4 linked regions of the Homo sapiens genome follow. The protein of the gene in region 1 purifies or fractionates together with the protein of each later gene. This does not show direct contact. Each region holds a gene or a part of one and is shown in the gene's direction. Other genes may lie near its edges.

Evidence for each region. The genes of interacting proteins can lie anywhere in the genome.
Region 2: the proteins of NCS1 (region 1) and ABHD6 purify together in Homo sapiens (affinity purification with mass spectrometry; 2 studies listed by BioGRID and IntAct, with this or other methods). This does not show direct contact.
Region 3: the proteins of NCS1 (region 1) and ICAM1 purify together in Homo sapiens (affinity purification with mass spectrometry; 2 studies listed by BioGRID and IntAct, with this or other methods). This does not show direct contact.
Region 4: the proteins of NCS1 (region 1) and USP24 purify together in Homo sapiens (affinity purification with mass spectrometry; 2 studies listed by BioGRID and IntAct, with this or other methods). This does not show direct contact.

The regions. Positions count from the first base shown.
Region 1 is NC_000009.12:130,227,666-130,231,650, forward strand, and holds part of NCS1 (neuronal calcium sensor 1), read left to right. Parts: intron 1-3,985. UniProt on the Homo sapiens protein: Neuronal calcium sensor, regulator of G protein-coupled receptor phosphorylation in a calcium dependent manner. Directly regulates GRK1 (RHOK), but not GRK2 to GRK5. Can substitute for calmodulin. Stimulates PI4KB kinase activity.
Region 2 is NC_000003.12:58,244,292-58,247,791, forward strand, and holds part of ABHD6 (monoacylglycerol lipase ABHD6), read left to right. Parts: intron 1-3,500. UniProt on the Homo sapiens protein: Lipase that preferentially hydrolysis medium-chain saturated monoacylglycerols including 2-arachidonoylglycerol. Through 2-arachidonoylglycerol degradation may regulate endocannabinoid signaling pathways.
Region 3 is NC_000019.10:10,277,620-10,281,119, forward strand, and holds part of ICAM1 (intercellular adhesion molecule 1 precursor), read left to right. Parts: intron 1-3,500. UniProt on the Homo sapiens protein: ICAM proteins are ligands for the leukocyte adhesion protein LFA-1 (integrin alpha-L/beta-2).
Region 4 is NC_000001.11:55,096,865-55,100,364, reverse strand, and holds part of USP24 (ubiquitin carboxyl-terminal hydrolase 24), read left to right. Parts: intron 1-495; coding exon 496-594; intron 595-1,806; coding exon 1,807-1,889; intron 1,890-2,280; coding exon 2,281-2,422; intron 2,423-2,647; coding exon 2,648-2,767; intron 2,768-3,192; coding exon 3,193-3,413; intron 3,414-3,500. UniProt on the Homo sapiens protein: Ubiquitin-specific protease that regulates cell survival in various contexts through modulating the protein stability of some of its substrates including DDB2, MCL1 or TP53.

The DNA.
Region 1 (3,985 bases):
CCTTGTTATAAGTGTATCACCCATTTTAATGTGCTCATTTGTGATGTGCTAGGTTAGTTATCCATTGCTACATATTACATTACCACAAACAGCAGCTTAAGAACAAACATTAGGAATTTGGCACAGTTAAGCTGGGTGCCTCTGGCTCAAGGACTCTCAGGAGTATGCAGTTCAGCTGTCAATAGGGTTTGCCCAGGTCTATCCTGGATTTAGCAGTGCAAGTTCCCTGTTCTAGGAAACTTCTCAGTCCCGGGAAAATTGGGATACTTGTCAGCCATTGGCCAGGGCTGTGGTCTCATCTGAAGGTTTGGCTGGTGATGACCTGCTTCCAAGCTCACTCATGTGGTTTGGCAGCCTTGTTCCCTTGCCATGTAGACACCTGCACAGGGCTGCCTCACAATATGGCTGCCGGCTTCCCTCAGAGCTTTCCAAGAGAGAAGGAGAGAAAGAGAGCCAGGATGAAAGCCAGTGTCTTTTTATAGCATAATCTTGGAAGTGATATCCATCACTTTTTCTTTTTCTTTCTTTTTTTTTTCTGCGACTGGGTCTCACTCTGTTACCCAGCCACCAGGTCATGGCTCACTGCAGCCTCAACCTCCCAGACTCAGACGAGCCTCCCACCTCAGCCCTCAGCTTTCCAAGTAGCTGGGACTACAGACATTTGCCACCATATCTGGCTAATTTAAAAAAAAAAGTGTTTTTTTTGTTTGTTTGTTTTGTTTTGTTTTTTTTCTGTAGTGTAGAGATAGAGTCTCACTATGTTGCCCAGGCTGGTCTGGAACTCTTGACCTCAAGTGATCCTCCTACCTCGGCCTCCCAAAGTGCTGAGATTACAGGTGTGAGCCACTGCACCCAGCCATAGATTGGTTTTTGAATGCTAAGTCACCTTGCATTCTTAGAATAAACTCCACTTTGCTGTGATGTGTTATTTTTTTATGTATCATAAAATTTGATTTGTTGGCATTTTGTTTAGGAGGTCTACACTGTTTTTTTCTTTCTTTCTTTCTTTTTTTTTTTTTGAGACAGGGTCTCACTCCATCACCTAGGCTGGAGTGCAGTGACATGATTTCAGCTCACTGCAGCCTCTGCCTCCTGGGTTCAAACAATTCTCCTGCCTCAGCTTCCCGAGTAGCTGGGACTATAGGCACCTGCCACCATGGCGCCTGGCTAATTTTTCCATTTTTAGTAAAGATGGGGTTTCACCATCTTGGCTAGGCTGGTCTCGAACTCCTGACCTCAGGTGATCCACCCACCTCAGCCTCCCAAAGTGCTGGAACTGCAGGCGTGAGCCACCATGCCTGGCCAGGCCTACACTGTTTTGAAGCGTCTGTTATTATTATTATTATTTTTCACAAGAAATCCTTTTTCATTGAAGAGACATTGAAAATATGTTTAATGAGAAAACCTCAATTAAAAAGTTTATTTTAAAAAAAACCCCTTATGTATGACTCAGATATAATCACAGTGAACATTTTAGTGTCCAGAGTGATTTTAAAAGAATTGAACACTTACAAAACTTAACACTCAGTAAACTGAGTCACACAGAAATTATATAATTAAAACCAATTTATAAAGGAACTATCACTGTTATTAATATTTCTTTTTTTTTTTTTTTCCAAGATGGAGTCTCCCAGGCTGGAGTGCAGTGGCGTGATCTTAGCTCACTGCAACCTCTGCCTCCTGGGTTCAGACAATTCTCATGCCTCAGCCTCCCAAGTAGCTGGGATTACAGGTGCTTGCCACCACGCCCGGCTAATTTTTGTACTTTTAGTAGAGATGGGGTTTCAGCATGTTGGACAGGCTGGTCTCGAACTCCTGACCTTGTGATCCACCCACCTCAGCCTCTCAAAGTGCTGGGATTACAGGTGTGGGCCATCGCGCCTGGCCAATATTTCCATCATAGAAATGTTTGACGTGTACCTTGACATGTCCCATGGTGAATGCTGATCCGTTGTCTAATTTTTCACAGTCCTCTTTTGCAAATCACCATGTCATATTATTTCCATGACAAGCTTGTCAAAGTGACAAGAGCCCTCGCATGATATGATCCCCCTTTCTATTAGCTCTGCTGGGAAATGGCCTTCTTTCTTCTATAGGGCTGTTCCTTGTGCCTACGCGGTAGTGATTATATCCAATTTGTGTTCTATCATTTTAATGATTTATTTGCCTCCTCAGGTTCCTGATAGCTCATAATTCCTAGATCACTTGCAGTGATGTAAGTCATTGACTTATTCAGAAACTGAGATGAGGCTTATTTTCCACATCATTAAATGTTGAGCCATCATTTTTCATAGCTGCATAATGCTCCATCACATGGCTGGGCCATAATTTAACCAGTTCCACAGTGTTGGACACTCAGGTTGTTGGGAATTTGGGGAAGGGATTAAAAAGTTATCTATTATGGGCCAGGCGCACTGGCTCATGCCAGTAACCCCAGCACTTTGGGAGGCTGAGGCAAGTGGATCACTTGAGGTTAGGAGTTCAAGACCAGCCTGGGCAACATGGTGAAACCCCGTCTCTACAAAAAATACAAAAATCAGCCAGGTGTGGTGGCGGGCACCTGTAATCCCAGCTATTTGGGAGGCCGAGGCAGGAGAATTGCTTGAACCTGGGAGGCGGAGGTTGCAGTGAGCCAAAACCACTCCACTGCACTCCAGCCTGGGTGACAGAGTGAGACTCTGTCTGAAAAACAAAACAAAACAAATTATCTGTTATGGAAACATTCATACACAGTGGCAGAGAGAATAGTGTAATGCTGAGTGGGCGCCTGTGGTCACTCACACCTATCATCCCAGTGCTTTGGGAGGCCGAAGTGGGAGGACTGCTTTAGGCCAGAAGTTTGAGTCCAGCCTAGGCAACATAGAGAGACTCTGTCTCTACAAAAAATATGAAAATTAGCCAGGTGTGGTGGCACATGCCTGTAGTCCCAGCTACTCAGGAAGCTGAGGCAGGAGGATCCCTTGAGCCCAGGAGTTAAAGGCTACAGTGAACTAGGATTGTACCACTACACTCCTGCCTAGGTGACAGTGTAAGACTCTGTCTCTTTAAAAAAAAAAAAAAGTGTAATGTTTTGTACTCATCACTCAGCTTCCGAATCCCCAGTTCCCTGCCAATCTTGTACCATCTGTGCCCTCCCCCCCCACCCCCACTCTTGTGATTTTGAAGCAAATTCAAGACATCATCATACTTAATCCATTTCAAAATGTATTTCTAAAAGATAAAGATTCTTTGAAAAATTCATAAAGCAAAAGCAATCAATAATTCCTTAATATCCTCTGATCTCTAGTTGCTATTCTAGTTTCCTGTTATCTTACTCTTTTTTTTTTAACTTTGTTTACTGAAATCAGAATCAGAATAAAGTCTACCCATTGTAATAGGTTGATAGGTCTCTTAAATTTATTTAGACCATGTGCAGTGGCTGACGCCTGTAATCCCAGCACTTTGGGAGGTCGAGCTGTGTGGATCACTTGAGCCAAAGAGTTCAAGACCAGCCTGGGCAACATGGTGAAACCCTGTCTCTACCAAAAATACAAAAATTAGCTGGGTGTGGTGGCGGGTGCCTGTAGTCCCACCTACTTAGGGGTGCTGAGGCAGGAGGATTGCTTGAACCAGGGAGGGTGAGGCTGCAGTAAGCTGAGATTGCACCACCGCACTCCAGCCTGGGTGATAAAGTGAGATTTTATCTCAAAAAAAAAAAACTTTAATTTTGTTTATTTTTTATGTATTTATTTTTTTGAGGTGGAGTCTCACTCTTTTTGCCCAGGCTGGAGTGCAATGACGTGATCTTGGCTCACTGCAACCTCTGCCTCCTGGATTCAAGCGATTCTCCTGCCTCAGTCTCCTGAGTAGCTGGGATTACAGGCACACACCACCACGCCCAGCTAATTTTTGTATTTTTAGTAGAGATGGGGTTTCACCATGTTGGCCAGGCTAGTCTCGAACTCTTGAACTCAGGTGATCCGCGTACCTTGGCTTCCTAAAGGGT
Region 2 (3,500 bases), on another chromosome or scaffold:
AACACTCCTTTAGGGGAGAGACTTGAAAATCAAACAATTGAGAGGCCCTTGAGAAATCAGTGAGGCCATAAGATATTTTTGCAAAAATGGCTTCTTTATGATAGCACAGTGATGACCAAATGTTAATTGGAAGGACTTATCATACCGTAAAAGAGTCTACACAAAATGAAGTCTTTGTTCTAAGAATTCGCACAGGGCTGAGCATGGTGGCTCGTGCCTGCCCACCACTTTGGGAGGGCAAAGCAGGAGGATTGCTTGAGGCCAGGGGTTCGAGAACAGCCTGGGTAACATAGAGAGACCCCATCTCTGCAAAAAATGAAAAATTAGCTGGGCGTGGTGGTGCATGCCTGTGGTCCCAGCTGCTCAGGAGGCTGAGGTGGAAGGATCACTTGGGCCCAGGAGGTCGAGGCTGCAGTGCGCCACTACAGTCTAGCCTGGGCAACAGAGCAAGACCCTGTCTCAAATTAAAAAAAAAAGCAAAAAAAAGCACAGAAATGTAATTGTAACCTAAATTTTGCTTGGTATTTACTATTGCTTTTAAAATAGATAGATTCGATTTTTGTTTTATTTAGATAAAGTACTAAACAAAACTGTATTTTACTTTTAACTATGAAATTCTGAGTGTGGCTTTACCATATATCCTTTTTTCTGGTGTTTATCTTCCTGGGCTACTGAGGTCTCTGGGAAGGAGATTCTGGCTAGAAAGAAGATGTGGATCAGTGCACAAGGACCCTGAATGCTAGACTTTGTGCTGGGAGTGAGAAGTCTTGTCCTGCCAAAGCCTGCCAGTGTTTATTAACAGGGCTCATTTTTTTGTTTAACATCAACTTTGTTCCTGCAGTTGGAAAGTACTGTAGACCAACTTCACCTCCTTTTTTTTTGTTTTGTTTTGAGACGGAGTCTCGCTCTGTCACCCAGGCTGGAGTGCAATGGCTCGATCTCAGCTCATTGCAAACTCTGCCTCCCAGGTTCAAGCGATTCTCCTGCCTCAGCCTCCTGAGTAGCTGAGATTACTGAGATGCCTGCCACCATACCTGGCTAATTTTGTATTTTTAGTAGAGACAGGATTTCACCATGTTGGCCAGGCTGGTCTCGAACTCCTGACCTCAGGTAATCCGCCCACCTGGGCCTCCCAAAGTGCTGGGATTACAGCCCTGAGCCACTGCATCTGGCCACTTCACCTCATTTAGAAAGGCAAAACCCCAGGCTGAGCACAGTGGCTCATGCCTGTAATCCCAGCACTTTGGAAGGCCGAGGCAGGCAGATCATTTGAGGCCAGGAGTTCAAGTCCAGCCTGGCCAACATGGCAAAACCCTGTCTCTACTAAAAATACAAAAATTAGCCGGGTATGATGGTGCACACCTGTAGTCCCAGCTACTTGGGGAGACTGAGGCACAAGAATTGCTTGAACCCCAGAGGCAGAGGTTGCAGTGAACTGAGATCGTGCCACTGCACTCTAGCCTGGGCAACAGAGGGAGACCCTGTCTCAAAAAAAAGAAAGAAAGAAGGAAGGAGAGAGAAGAAAGAAAGAAAGAAAAAGAAAGAAAGAACAAAAAAAGAAAGGCAAAACTGTCTTTGATCTCCCTGCTTTTCCTCTTATTTAAAAGTGCAAGTTTGGCCAACAGGAGAATGTTTTGGGTGCTGAGGTTCTATTTTTTCCATCTGCTATATAGCACACCAATAGAGGGCTATTTTAATTCCTTTCAGCCATGTGGCAAATAGTCACTTACATGATGCTCTTTCTAGCACTTCACCTTTGAGGGGTGACCTGGCTGATGACAGTTACATGTACTCATGCTAATTCAGTGAGAAACGTTCAAATCAAAGCCTGTTGTGGGCTCCACTAGAGCCTGAAGACTTTGGGCTCCTTAAACGTAAAGGGTCAAGTGGCTTTTGGCTCCTGTTTTATCCAGCAGGAGACTGGCTTGTATTTCTGTAGGGCTGTCTTGTTTTAAACATGATTTCAAGCAGGCGGTTATTCCAGACTATCACCACAGCCCCCATCCTGACAAAAGAGGCTGATGTTGCCAGGTCAGTGTATGTGTGACATGTTTCATCACCTTGCTTCTTGGCCAGCATGATTTGTTAAAAGCTGTACCACAGGATACACAACCCCCCTGCCTTCCAGCTGAGCCTCGGACTGATCTGCCTGCCTGTCCCTCCTCTGCCTGTCACTTCTCTAGAGAATCAGGTAGCACGGCTTTCTGGTTCTCTCTGATCCTCCACCCACAGGACCAGCCTGGCTGGGCTGAATTCTCTTTCCCACAGTGCTGCCCAGGTGGCCAAAGCAGGGAGGGGACTGTGGGCTGGGCTGGTTCTTTAATGAGAACCCCCATGAGGAACCAGTTGTCAGAGTTTTGGTGCAAAGCAGGAGAGAGTGAACCATCTAATCAGTACCTCTCCCAGAATCACGAAGGAGATAAGAATTTGTGGTTTATGGATGGTCATGTGTTTCCAGGATAGAACAATAAGAACGTTTATCATTTGAAAAATTTAAATTCCTATCTTCTACCTTAGAGTACTGGACTTTGAGTCTTAAGGACTAAAGTTCCTGCCATGCAGGCATAACCTTTGGACAGTCATGTGGGCAGTAGTCCGCCAGTCATTGAATGTTAATAGAGTGGGCTGCTAGGCTGCATAGTGTGGAGATGGAGGGAGTTTCATCCTCCATCCTTCCAGCATTCACATTTGTATTTCTTTCCTCATAATGAAAAACAGTTAATATTTGGTTGCCGTCTCTAATGGGCCTTTTTTTTTTTTTTTGAGACAGAGCCTTACTCTGTCACCCAGGCTGCAGTGCAGTGCACTGCAACCTCCGCCTCCTGGGTTAAAGGGATTCTAGCTAGGACTACAGGCATGCACCACCACGCCTGGCTAATTTTTGTATTTTTAGTAGAGGTGGGGTCTTGCTATGTTGCCCAGGCTTGTCTCTAACTCCTGGGCTCAAAGTGATCCTCCTGCTTCAGCCTCCCAAGGTGCTGGGATTACAGGTGTGAGCCACGGTGCCTGGCCTCTTGAACTAGTGTAGAGTCCGGGACTGGCCAGTAGAACTTTTGTGATAAGGGAAATGTTCTATATTTCTGCTGTCCAATATGATAACCACAAACTAGTGGCTGTTGAGCATTTGACTTGTGGCTAGTGCAGCTGAAGATTCGAATTTTAAATTTTATTTAATTTCAATTTAATTTTAAGCAGCCACATGTGACTAGTGGCTACCATATTGGACAATACAGATGGACTACTTTATTTGAGGAGTTTGTATTGTAGTTATTTTTTGTTTTTTTGTTTTTTGTTTGTTTGTTTTTGAGAGAGTCTCGCTCTGTCACCCAGGCTGGAGTACAATGGCACAGTCTCGGCTCATTGCAACCTCCACCTCGCGGTCAAGCAATCCTTGTGCCTCAGCCTCCTGAGTTGCAGGGACTACAGGCGCACACCACCACGCCTGGCTAATTTTTGTATTTTTAGTGGAGTCAGGGTTTCACCGTGTTGGCCAGGCTGGT
Region 3 (3,500 bases), on another chromosome or scaffold:
TGGAATTACAGGCGCCCAGCACCACGCCCGGCTAATTTTTGTATTTTTAGTAGAGACGGGATTTCATCATGTTGGCCAGGCTGGTCTTGATCTCCTGACCTTGTGATCTGCCCGCCTCGGCCTCCCAAAGTGCTGGGATTACAGGCGTGAGCCACTGCCCCCAGCCGAGAATTTCTCTTTGCGTCCTTCCTACTTTGGGGACTTCGAATGGTGGGAAAGAGTTATCAAGGCCAAAATAAGGAATTCAAATGAAAACAAAACAAAATCAAAGAAGAAAAAACAGAAGAGCACTGGGCAGGCTAGGCACGTGGCTCATGCCTATAATCCCAGTGATTTAGAAGGCCGAAGTAGAAGGATCGCTTGGAGGCCAGGAGTTGGACACCAGCCTGGGCAACATAGCAAGACCCCATATCTACAAAAAATAAAAAACCTAACCAAGCGTGCTGGCATACTAGTAGTCCCAGCTACTCAGGAGGCTGAGGTGGGAGGATCACCTGAGCCTGGGAGGTCCAGGCTGTAGTGAGCCGTGATGACACCACTGCACTCCAGCCTGGGTGACAGAGAAAGACCCTGTCTCTAAAAAATAAAAACTGGCCAAGTAGCTTTGGGATTAGCCTTGGGTTCCAGTCCCAGCAAGGCCTTTAATAGCTTGGGACATGACTTCTGCATTTACTTTGCAATCAGGTGAGACCTCCTCTGATGGGGAAAATGACACGGTGAGTGACAAAGGATGTTCTCCTATCATTGTGTCAGGGCAAGGAAGCCTCTGGGTAAATGATCAAATGATCAGCTTTGCTTCTGATTTGGAGGGTGGGTGAGCAGATGCTGACCTTCCCAGGTGAGGGAAGTCCCCGAACATTCCCAGCAGCTTCTGGAAACCCCAGGGAAACCTCTTTGAAGGTCTTTTCTGCATCTCTGCCTGATAGGTCTTTTTTTTTTTTTTTTTTTTTTTCTTTTTTTTGACACACAGTCTTGCTCTGTCGCCCAGGCTGGATCACTGCAACCTCCATCTCCCGGGTTCAAGCAGTTCTCCTGCCTCATCCTCTCCAGTAGCTGGGATTACAGGCACCTGGCACCACGCCTGGCTAATTTTTGTATTTTTAGTAGAGACAGGGTTTCGCCAAGTTGGCCAGGCTGGTCTCGAACTCTAGACCTCTGGTGATCCACCCGCCTCAGCCTCCCGAAGTGCTGGGATTACAGGCTTGAGCCACCACGCGCGGCTCTGCCTGATAGCTGAGAGCATAGAACTCCAGGTTTGAGACCTGGCTCTGCCACATTTCTCCCTCTATGACTGTGGGTGCCCCACTTTGCCTTAGTTTTTACCTCTGTGAAATGGAGCAGATGGCTGGCACAGGTAGCAAAGGAGTAAAAGTTATGTGGGAGGGTGGTACCTGAGAGAGACTCTAGCTTGGTCTTGCCCCACCCCTGGTGTAAACATAAAGAAGCCTCCCTGGATGGCTCAATCTTCTCCAAAAAGGTTAGAGGTGTAATTCCTAGAGGAGGCGACCACTAGCTGGGCTTTGAAGGATGTGTAGGAGTTCATAAGGACAGGCATTCTGGGCAGGAGGAACAGCCTGGGCAAAAGTTGGGAGCAGGGAGAAATCTTGATGGAGGCAGGAGGAGGAGGAGGTAGGTTGGTGTAGGCCAGGTGCAGTGGCTCACACCTGTAATCCCAGTGCTTTGGGAGGCCAAAGCAAGAGGATTGTTTGAGCCCAGGAGTTCGAGACCAGCCTGGGCAACATAGCGAGACCCTGTCTCTAAGAAAAAATAAAAAAATTAGGGTACAGTGGCATATGCTTGTATTCTCAACTACTCTGGAGGCTCAAGTGGGAGGATCACTTGAACCCAGGAATTTTTTTGTTTTTGTTTTTGTTTTTTTGAGATGGAGTCTCACTCTGTGGCCCAGGCTGGAGTGCAGTGGTGCCATCTTGGCTCACTGCAGCCTCCTCCACCTCCTGGGTTCAACCGATTCTGCTGCCTGAGCCTCCCGAGTTGCTGGGATTAAGGTGCCCACCATCATGCCCAGCTAATTTTTTTGTATTTTTAGTAGAGATAGGGTTTACCATGTTAGCCAGGCTGGTCTTGAACGCCTGACCGCAAGAGATCCTCCTGCCTCAGTTTCCCAAAGTGCTGGGATTATAGGTGTGAGCCACTGAGCCTGGTCAAGCCCAGGAATTTGAGGTTACAGTCAGCTATGATTGCACCACTGCATTCCAGCCCAGGTGACAGAGAGAGACACTGCCCCTAAAAAAAAAAAAAAAATTGATTGATGGGAGGAAGGGTGAGGTTGGCAGAGCCTTGAATGCCAGGTGGAGGAGCTGGGACTTTCCTTCTTGGGGTGATAGGGAGTCATGGAGGGTTTCTGAGCAGGCCAGGGATTAGATAGCTGAAGGCTGGATTTACTGGAAGCCAATGAGCAGTTGGCTATGGTCCTTGTCCACGCGGCCCATGTTGTGGGCAGTGACCGTATTCAAGAAGGGAAGGACAGACAAGTATTTGAATACTTCAGTGACCAGGATTTGGTAAAGGACTGCAGGTCAGGGTCAAGAAGAGGTGAGAGCAGGACAGACTTCCTCCCCGCTGCACCAGGCAGCTGAGCTGGGTTTCCTCTAGGGGCTGAGGTTTGAGGGTACCTCAAGTTCTGCAAGAGTCTATAGGAGGTGGTAAGAGAGAAGAGCTGGAGGTCAGAGTTTTCTTGACTATATATATATATATTTTTTTGTTTTTGTTTTTAACAGCTTAACAGCTTTCTGTTTTATTTTTAGAGACAGGGTCTCAGGGTCTCACTTTGTCACCCAGGCTGGAGTGCAGTGGTACAATCGTAGCTGACTGCAGCCTCAAACTCCCAGGCTCAAGAAATCCTCCTCCCACCCTTAGCCTCCTGAGTAGCAGGGACTACAGGTGTGAGCCAGCAGGAAGCCCAGCTGGTTTTTTTTTTTTCTTTGGTGTTTTTTGTTTGTTTGTTTGAGACCGGAGTTTCGCTCTTATTGCCCAGGCTGAAGTGCAATGGCAGGATCTTAGCTCACCACAACCTCCGACCCCCAGGATCAAGCTATTCTCTTGCCTCAGCCACCTGAGTAGCTGGGATTACAGGCATGCGACACCACACAAGGCTAATTTTGTATTTTTAGTAAAGACAGGGTTTCTCCATGTTGGTCAGGCTGGTCTCGAACTCCCAACCTCAGATGATCCACCTGCCTCGGCCTCCCAAAGTGCTGAGATTACAGGCATGAGCCACCGTGCCCGGCCTTTTTTTTTTTTTTTTTTTTTTTGAGACAGAGTCTCACTCTGTCGCCCAGGCAGGAGTGCAGTGGTTCGATCTGGGCTCACTGCAAGCTCCGCCTCCCGGGTTCACTCCATCCTCCTGCCTTAGCCTCCTGAGTAGCTGGGACTACAGGCGCCCACCACCACGCCTGGCTAATTTTTTGTATTTTTAGTAGAGACGGGGTTTCACCGTGTTAGCCAGGATGGTCTTGATCTCCTGACCTCGTGATCCGCCC
Region 4 (3,500 bases), on another chromosome or scaffold:
ACCCCCATGCCCGGCTAATTTTGTGTTTTCAGTAGAGATGGGGTTTCTCCGTGTTGGTCAGGCTAGTCTTGAACTCCCGACCTCAGGTGATCCGCCTGCCTCGGCCTCCCAGAGTGCTGGGATTACAGGCGTGAGACACCACATCCGGCCAAGAATACTATTTTTAAACATTGCTTTACTGTGTTTCACATATTGGAGGATCACCTTGTGTTTTTCCCCATAGGTTGATTTGTTTCTAAGAGAGAAATTCTCTGTTCCATGGCCTAGATCTTACCCAGTACCCACTTTTGATTTCAGAGACTTGTTATGATTGTAAGGGGACTAGAAAAAAGGGTGGATGGCTGAATACAAGCTAGTCTCACTTCACTAGAAATGTCCACATCCTAATAGTGAACCTGATTTTTATAAGCATTTAAGTGCTCTTTCATGTTCCCTTTCTACCACATTCAGAAATTGCTACTTTTCCTTTAAAAACATTTAATTTTTGTTATATAGATTTTCAAGATGTGGAATAAAGAACTTTATGTGAGAGAACAGCAGGATGCATATGAATTCTTTACTAGTCTCATTGATCAGATGGATGAATACCTCAAGGTAGTAAAAGTTGTACTTTCCCTCTAACTCCCTCAAACTCTAATTATAGTATGAGAATAGTGTCTTAGCATTTGGGGTTACTATGAAACTGACGAATCAGAAATTGATTATCTTTAACATAAGAACTATAATGTATTCTGTGTTTAAACATCAAAACATAACACAGATCAATAGAATTGTATATTTTCTCTTTTTTTTCTTTTCTTTTTTTTTGAGACAGAGTCTCGCTCTGTCACCCAGAGTGGAGTGCAGTGGCACAATCTCAGCTCACTGCAACCTCTACCTTCCAGGTACAAGAGATTCTTGCACCTCAGCCTCCCGAGTAGCTGGGATCACAGGTGTGCACCACCACGCCCGGCTAATTTTTGTACTTTTTGGCAGAGATTGGGTTTCGCCATGTTGGCCAGGCTGGTCTCAAACTCCTGGCCTCCAGAGATTCACCCACCTCAGCCTCCCAAAGTGCTGGGATTACAGGCTTGAGGTACCATGCCTGGCCTAGAATTGCATATTTTCTTAATTCATCTAACGCTCAGTAAAGTATGTAACTCTTAATCTCTACTACATAGTAATAACCATTCCTACCTACATATTCTTTCTGTGTGTCTACTGAAATAATCTGGCCTCAGAAGAGTGCTGCAGTCACTGGTGAGCTGATGGCCCTGTGCAGAGCAGAGAGTGCTCTGGCACAGGGGAGAAAGGAGCCAGATTAAAAAGTTATTCGTGGTGCTGTTGAAACCCAAAGCTCTCTACCTCTACCCTGTAAGCCATGTGGCAGACTTCCTAAACGGTATTGCCTTCTCAGATCCCGCTGTCACTGCCAGCATTGGCCTCTCATCAGTAGGCACAATTCTTCCATTTTTTAAAGTAACTTGCAAATTGATGGCATTCTATCCACAAGAAAAAAGAAAAGATTGCTGAGAGTTGCCCCTAACTTGGTCCTTGTAGCACAGGGAGAAGGATTCAGAATCACCCTGGAGAACACTCTCTTGTCATTAGCTCTACCTGACCCATCCCTCCTCCTCTTCCTCTTCTGATCGTCTGCATCACTCTGACAGTGGGGCCAATAATGGGTTTAGCCTCCATTCACCACAGCTGATACTACCAGAATGACGCGTTTTGTTTTGGTCCTTAAATTGCAATGTGTTAATAAAATTCTGTATACTCATAAGTTCAGGAGGCATCACTTAAAACTGTAACTTTTCATTCCAACAGAAAATGGGGAGAGACCAAATTTTTAAGAATACATTTCAGGGCATCTACTCTGATCAGAAGATCTGTAAAGACTGTCCTCACAGGTGAGTGAAGATATCACCGACACAGGAAAAATGATCATCCTTTTGAAGTGATTTGTTTAGTATGTTGTAAATTTTGCATTTGTTAAGAGACTTAGAACTCTCTCCCTGTCAACAGATCTATAAGTATTTAGTGACTTAAATTTCTTTGCTTTCTACTTCCAGAAGGAGAAAAAATTTCTTTGTGGGCTTAAGAAAATATTCATTGAAATTCATAATTTTAGGCAATTCTTAATTGTCACAAAGTGGCATTTTAACTTAGTAATGGACTTTTAAAATATTGAGGGACTCCCAGATTAAAAATGTAGTTCTGTGTTCAAGCTTAGGTATTATGATAATTGAAGAGTTTTAAATTCCATTGTTGATTGTGGGTTTTCTGTTATTTCCTAATCAGATATGAGCGTGAAGAAGCTTTCATGGCTCTCAATCTAGGAGTGACTTCTTGTCAGAGTTTGGAAATTTCTTTGGACCAATTTGTTAGAGGAGAAGTTCTAGAAGGAAGTAATGCGTACTACTGTGAAAAGTGTAAAGAAAAGGTATTATGTTTGCCCTTTTTAAAAAACAAGATTAATTTGTTATTCGCATAGTGCGTCTTTGTTTTATGTAAAATCAGTATTAAGCTCCTACTGTTATTTCCATTAGATTGTGTCATTACTTGTTTTCACATGGATCAGAAAGGCCTTTGCATTAATTACTGTGCTGTTTTATTTTCTCCATGGAGATCATTCAGATTTGCTCTTTTTCCTTTTTTTTTTCTTTAGAGAATAACAGTGAAAAGGACCTGTATTAAATCTTTACCTAGCGTCTTGGTAATTCACCTAATGAGATTTGGGTTTGACTGGGAAAGCGGACGCTCCATTAAATATGATGAACAAATAAGGGTAACTTTTTTTCTTCCTGAAATTTTTCACAACCATTCATTTCCTCACTCACTTCTTTTTTTTTCCTTTTTCAATTTTCATATTCTGTCTACCATGTTAAGGCTGTTGTCTCAGCATTATGAAGAGCCCCTTATCTTAGGCAGCTGCTGTTACCGGAATAGGCAGATCTGGAAACAGTGGCCCTCATTTCTAGAAGGCATCCTAGTGATTACTATGAAGGAAAATGCCTTCCTTAGGGCTCAAACCAGAGGCTACTTTAGACGTTCCCAGACTTAACATTTCTGAGATTTTATACTTGAACTGGTGAGGTAGTTGTTCCTAGCTTAAACTAGGAAAACACTTCCTCTTATTTGGATCTCACTTAACTGGGTACTGCTGTATATGTTAGTAATCAACGTTAATATGGTCTTTTTGCTTCTACATAGTTTCCCTGGATGCTAAACATGGAGCCTTACACAGTTTCAGGAATGGCTCGCCAAGATTCTTCTTCTGAAGTTGGGGAAAATGGGCGAAGTGTGGATCAGGGCGGTGGAGGATCCCCACGAAAAAAGGTTGCCCTCACAGAAAACTATGAACTTGTCGGTGTCATCGTACACAGTGGGCAGGCACACGCAGGCCACTACTATTCCTTCATTAAGGACAGGCGGTAAGAGTTTCCTGAGGCAGCACTTACTCACTTTCTGCCCTCCCCTGCTCTCCGTTATCATCCATACTCACCGCTGTGGTGCAGGGA